Homo sapiens: one gene and its partner. The protein of the gene in region 1 purifies or fractionates together with the protein of each later gene. This does not show direct contact. Each region holds a gene or a part of one and is shown in the gene's direction. Other genes may lie near its edges.

What was found.
Region 2: the proteins of SPOCK3 (region 1) and MMP3 purify together in Homo sapiens (affinity purification with western blotting, with the first as the bait; one study listed by BioGRID). This does not show direct contact.

What each region holds. Positions count from the first base shown.
Region 1 is NC_000004.12:166,909,243-166,913,078, reverse strand, and holds part of SPOCK3 (testican-3 isoform 1 precursor), read left to right. Parts: intron 1-335; coding exon 336-459; intron 460-3,836. UniProt on the Homo sapiens protein: May participate in diverse steps of neurogenesis. Inhibits the processing of pro-matrix metalloproteinase 2 (MMP-2) by MT1-MMP and MT3-MMP. May interfere with tumor invasion.
Region 2 is NC_000011.10:102,837,758-102,840,747, reverse strand, and holds part of MMP3 (stromelysin-1 preproprotein), read left to right. Parts: intron 1-154; coding exon 155-319; intron 320-495; coding exon 496-640; intron 641-1,504; coding exon 1,505-1,638; intron 1,639-2,037; coding exon 2,038-2,197; intron 2,198-2,990. UniProt on the Homo sapiens protein: Metalloproteinase with a rather broad substrate specificity that can degrade fibronectin, laminin, gelatins of type I, III, IV, and V; collagens III, IV, X, and IX, and cartilage proteoglycans.

The sequences.
Region 1 (3,836 bases):
CAGATGTGTGAGTTCTTTATTGCTGAGCAAGTGTTGCTTCTGTTTCTGAGTCTATCAAAAGGGTTCACATGAAGAAATACAGCTATCATTTATATGTGACTAGCAGAATATATTTAAGGAACATATTCTTTTTTATCAGAGGCAAGCCTTAAGATATAAATCAAAAGATTATAATGAAAAATATGGCATGAAATAATAAATTAAAAATGAGAATAGTTTGTTGATTCTAATGTATCTTCAGGAGTTGGAATGGCAGTTTAGGAGAGGAATGAGCTAATATAAATGTATATTTTAAAATAAATATGCTCAATATGCTTGCTTTATTTTTTTAACAGGATGAAAGAAGCAGGAGTAGACCATAGGCAGTGGAGGGGTCCCATATTATCCACCTGCAAGCAGTGCCCAGTGGTCTATCCCAGCCCTGTTTGTGGTTCAGATGGTCATACCTACTCTTTTCAGGTAAAGACACCTACAGTTGTTTAGTTTGAAATAAGGGATGCATACTTATTAGTAAATGATTAAAACCATTGCTTATCCAATGTGATAATTCAAATTATTCATTTAACTTATAAAATAAATTAATAATCTCACTGGTTTGGAATATGATTCAATGTGCATTTGTTTTTTCTATATCAGAATTTTTAAGGTTTGAAATACTAAAGCTATGAACCCTCAGATATCAAAGCCAACCTTTCCTTTGTTGCTACTATGAAAGAAGTCAGAAATGTTAGCATGCTGTACAATAGCTTTAGTGATCAATATTATTTTAACAACAATAAATGTGCTACAATCTGTCATTAGAATTATTTTTTAATCTCATATTTTATCTCCTATATTATCTCATTTAAGCCACCAAAAATCTCTTTACCAGATGAAAAAAACAGGATCAGAGAGGCAATTTGACAAGTTTCACATATTTAGTTGACATTGAAGCTAGGATTTGATATAATCTCTGATTCAATGCCTTTGCTCTCTCTTCTACATTGTTGTTCCTCCCAATTAAGTGTCCCATATTGTTAAAATATTTTGGGATTTTTACAAACTTTGCCTAAATAAGACATTGATAAATTTCCTTAGCTTATGTAACAGAAAGTAAGGAGTTCAGGTTCACTGTCTTTTATCTGAAACCCTAGGGACTGCATACATTTAAAAATTTAGATTTAAAAAATATATATTTTAGAAAGGTAGTGTAGCATATTATGCAGTGTCCCTAGAAGGAGCTTACCCTATAATTAAACTATTAAGCCAGGTGCAGTGGTTCACGCCTGTAACCCCAGCACTTGTGAGGCCAAGGTGGGCAGATTACCTGAGTCAGGAGTTTGAGACCAGCCTGGCCAACATGGTGAAACCCCGTCTCTACTAAAAATACAAAAATGCATCAGGCATGGTGTTGGGCATCTGTAATCCCAGCTACTCGGGAGGCTGAGGCAGAAGAATGACTTGAACCAGGGAGACGGAGGTTGCAGTGAGCTGAGATTGCGCCATTGTACTCCAGCCTGGGCAATAAGAGCAAAACTCTGTCTCAAAAAACAAAAAACAAAAACAAAAACATATTAATACATTTTTAAGCAACAATTTAAATATTCTTATTAAAGAGTATACATTAAATCTATAAATAACCTTTCTTCAGTTCATATCTGATTGTGCTTACTGCAGTTATTTCCAGAATTTTCCTACCTTTTATATGTTTTGGTTTTGTGGATACCTGCTTATGAATCATAATCTGTCTGAGCAAATATTTCCCCAAAACTTCCACTTGCCTTTTACAATTACAAATCTGGGAAAGTGCACTACAATGCTCTTAATTAATTCAGTCACTAAATACATAGTACACACTAGGTGCCAAGTACTGTGTATCCTTAGTGAAGCTGTCATATGTCTACCTGCTAAACTTTTATAGATGTATATAGAAGCGGAGTTATCGCTAGGAGAGGAGTGTGTCAGGGGTCCTTTCAACATGGTCTTGATCTTGGTGAATTTAACATGGTATAGGTAGGGCCTTGGCTTTGCAAGTTTAGTGAATTCCTGTTGCCAGTACAAGGGAGAGTGAATCTATCTCATATTATAAAATTCCACATGGAAATGATGTATAAATCATTTTGCTGATTTATTGACTTATAATGAAGGATGCAGATTGTAATATTCAAACTGATAGGAAGAACTACAGAGGAAGTAAATTTTAATCCTAATTTTATCTGGTGAGTGTAGATGATTGAATAAATTGAGTCAGTGGTAGAGAGATTGGAAAGTTTTACTGGCATCCACCTAAGTAGAAGTATGTCTTTCTCAACATTGGAAATATGTGCCAGAAGTACTGATATGTTTGTGCCTAGGGTGTCATCATCCCCAGAGAGTGCTAACAGAAGTCTACTGGCTTCTGCTGACATTTTTGGGACTCTTTTGAGGTTGCTCCTAGCAGGTGATCCTTCCTTTCCCAATTTAGTTTCATAGGACACCAAGTTACAATTATAAGTGGAATTCTACTTGATAAGACTTGATTGATGATGTTAGAGTTACTTAGCATGTAAGAAATAGCTCTCATATTCTCATTCAAGACTAAAAGCACGTATTATACGTAGATTAATTCAGGTATATCTTCAATTTCATGGGGTTTCCTCATTGTTCTCCTTGGGCGTGAGGCACACTGTGATACCTTGGCTTATAAATCATCTAATTTTATTAGTAGTATCAACAAAACCAATCTTATAGATAATCCATATTTGAATTATTATTTTAATATTTATTTACATAAATGTCACTTTTAACAAATGCTTTTTTACATAGAAAGACATTACAAAAAGCATGCTTCAAGTGAATATGGGTCTTTAATAACCCTAAATCATCATTTTTATTTCTGTTAATTCTAATTTAACTTAATGACTTTTCCACTTTGAACCATCCATCCTAATCTTAAACTTTTGCATTGACAGCAATGAGACTGAGCTATATAAAACAATGAAAAACTAAGTAGAACTCTTAGCCCAGTAAAGATTTAGGTGAAACTATCCTTACTAATCTTTTTTTAAGAGTTTATTTGATTTGAATCTCAAATTAAGGACTTCAATATGTTGGTGTTTTTTTGTTCCCCCCTCATAAGAAAGTATTGCCCTAGGCTATTTAGCTACTGATCAAAAACAAAGACCACAAAGGCCAGTACCTTCTTGTAAATGTCATTTTATTATGTTCCCAACATCTGCTTATGAGAGTTGAAAATAGAATATAGATAAGAGATCACAAGATCTTTCTTCTGGCTCTTGGATCACTAAATTTTGTCAATAAACTTGCAAATTATGACAGGTCAGATTTAAACACATTTGAACAATAATGATGAGCTCCAAATTCTAAGCTCAGTAGGGTCCATGAAGCTCCTTGCTTGAAGTTTTAAATCCTCCCCTGAGTAGTCCTGATATGTTAAAGATTAATCAGAAGCCAGATATGATGAGTCTTGGATGTGGGGCCCTACATTCAGTGTGGAAGTGCAGTCTTGCTGTGGAAGCCTTTCCTATTCGTCTGCTGAATTGTTGACCCATGCATTGATACAAATGGTTTTTTTTTAATACTACAAATAATATTCCTACAAGTTCTATTTTAGACCCACAATGTTTGTTCATTACTTTCAGCTTATTTTATAGAGAGGAGATTATAAATGATATTTTCATTGCACATCTTAACTGGAGGTGAGGTCAGGTGCAGGAGCTGGGGGATGTGGTGGGAAAGAGGAATATCAGAAGGTACACAAAGAAAGACTTTAGCCAAATGATATAACTAAGATATAATTTTAAAAGGTAAACCTCATTATGCAATGTGACCAATTTTGAATAATTATTTTATTTGAG
Region 2 (2,990 bases), on another chromosome or scaffold:
GTGTAATTAGTCAATTGTTCAATTAACCAACAAACAAGGTGTAAAAAGCCCTGTGTGGTTCCAAGAAGTAAAAACCAATACAATGCACAGCAGACCTGTGTAATGCACATGTATTTAAAAAATAAGTAACTATTGTTCTCAATTTCTTAAATAGGGACCAATTTATTTCTCGTTGCTGCTCATGAAATTGGCCACTCCCTGGGTCTCTTTCACTCAGCCAACACTGAAGCTTTGATGTACCCACTCTATCACTCACTCACAGACCTGACTCGGTTCCGCCTGTCTCAAGATGATATAAATGGCATTCAGTCCCTCTATGGTGAGTGACACTGGGAAAATCAGCCATTGTAGTTTTGCAATGATGGTCTTCAGAAGAGCTTTCAAATGCTACATAAAGTATTTATGATTTAGTTCAAAGCACCGTGAGAATGTTTGGAAAGCATACAAATGGGCATATATTGAAACGTATCACATTTCCCCTAATGTTCCCTTTAGGACCTCCCCCTGACTCCCCTGAGACCCCCCTGGTACCCACGGAACCTGTCCCTCCAGAACCTGGGACGCCAGCCAACTGTGATCCTGCTTTGTCCTTTGATGCTGTCAGCACTCTGAGGGGAGAAATCCTGATCTTTAAAGACAGGTCAGGCTGAAAAATTATATTTTCCTACCATTTTAATCTACAATGTTTAGAAAGGAAAACACGCAGAAACTTGATAGAGATTCTTAGACATTTAAAACAAAAACGTTTCTTCTGAGCTTGGAATCATTTAGATCTGGTGCTGCCTTTTCCCACATTTTCCTAAAATTGTCAGGTTCATTTTTGAAGGCACAGGCTGATCTGGTTCTTAGCTTCTAATTGCTGTTTCCAAATGTCTTAAGTCACAGTTACTTTTCAAAAGGCATGAGTAGATCTTTCGAATAATAATTTTATTTTTACTTCCTTTAAAAATGACATCAGGATCAACATTACATTTAATCAAGTAATTTACTTACTGATGGATCAATATGCACATGACAAACATTCAAAGAGCACAAATGAGAAGCAAATTAAAAATTTTAGTTCCCAGTTCTCCCTGTACTCATCCAGAGTCAAGACTTTTTGTGCATCCTTCCAGAATCTTTCTACACACATACAAGAATATATTTACACAGCACATACACGTATACAAACACGGCCTAGCTTTTGGAAGAGGGTATAGCACACGCACTGTTTTGCATACATTGCAGGTAATTAAAGCTTATGCTGGGCTAATTCATTTGCACGATAGAATAATTTTTCTTTCATAGAAGACATTACTCTGGAAACCTATGACGGGAGACTCACTACAGTCTTCTGAAGAAAAAGGAAAGAAATTTTCTAATGGCAATATACCTGATTTCTATCTGTCATCCAGCCTAGAAGATGAGAGAATGGGGGAAGCTGGGTGAGGCAAGACGGTGAGGAAAATATTCTAAAGGTGAAAGATTGTTTTTCAATTTACATTTCTTTTTACATATATTTTAGGCACTTTTGGCGCAAATCCCTCAGGAAGCTTGAACCTGAATTGCATTTGATCTCTTCATTTTGGCCATCTCTTCCTTCAGGCGTGGATGCCGCATATGAAGTTACTAGCAAGGACCTCGTTTTCATTTTTAAAGGTAATTACTATATCATCATTTGTTTAACTTGCCAAAGTAAACCCTCTCATAAGAAATTGAACAACACTTTAATTTTCCCTACTACAAGTTCTGGCTAATACAGTAGTCAACGGTAATGAAGAAATAACCAGGGCTGATATCATTGTATTTATATTTCATAGATGATAAAAATAAAGACAAGAAGATAAATTACCCAGAGTTGTAAATTCTCTCATTTGACCTTAGTTCATTCATTCAGTCTGCAAATTTTTGTGAAAAGCCCACTGTAAGCTGGTGACTAAATCTAAAATTTGGGCTACTACTTTACCATGAAAATCAAAGATGCTAAAGTGTATTTCTAAAGCGAAAGGGCTTAACTGTTATAATTCAATATGACTCTGAATTATTTATATTTAACAGGAAATCAATTCTGGGCTATCAGAGGAAATGAGGTACGAGCTGGATACCCAAGAGGCATCCACACCCTAGGTTTCCCTCCAACCGTGAGGAAAATCGATGCAGCCATTTCTGATAAGGAAAAGAACAAAACATATTTCTTTGTAGAGGACAAATACTGGAGGTGAGATGCAAGAGAAATGACTTTGTATGGAGCCTAATTAGGGAAATTAGTTTCTTTTACTAAGGAAATCCCCCACCCCAACCTTAGGCCTGCTTCTCTCTTAGTAGGAAGGATGGGACTTCAGACAACTGTGGGAAAGTTCTTACTTTAAAACAGCAGCACCTTAGGCTCTCCTGCTTTCAGTCCCAAGTGCAGTTGGCTGGTGCTTCCCTTGGTGCTGTCACCCCACCTGCCTGGAGCCCCCTCTTCTCTCCTCAACCTATTCAAATCTTGCCCATCCTTCAAGTCCTGGCTCAAGTCTCATCACCTCCATGCAGCTTTCCCTCGTGGACTTTAGACCCATTGGGAAAATGTTCTGAGAACCCAGACCGCAATTTAGCGTTCCCTTCCCATTGTCTTTTAGTTTGGCTCACTGTCTCACTGTGTGTTTGTCACTGTCTCATTGTGTGTTTGTTTTGTCTTCCTAACACTACTATATGATTTTCAAGGGCTACCTCTAACCTCACCCACTTGTCACCTCTACCTGATAATGATGGCTCATTTAAGAGATGATGATCAATAGCAGTCCAGTTTATGGATACAACCCAACACTCACAGACAGGTTGATTCCTGGGTCATTTGGCCAGACTTTGAGACATCGAGGCCGACCATCTGATATCCAGCCAATGGGCTAAAAACACACTTACTGTGCTTTGCTTCTTATCCTAATCCCTTTTCCCAGGAGGCCACCAGAGAAGATTTAGATGTGCAGGGGAGGGGACAGCAGGCATATATGGGCCAATTGTGGTAGGGA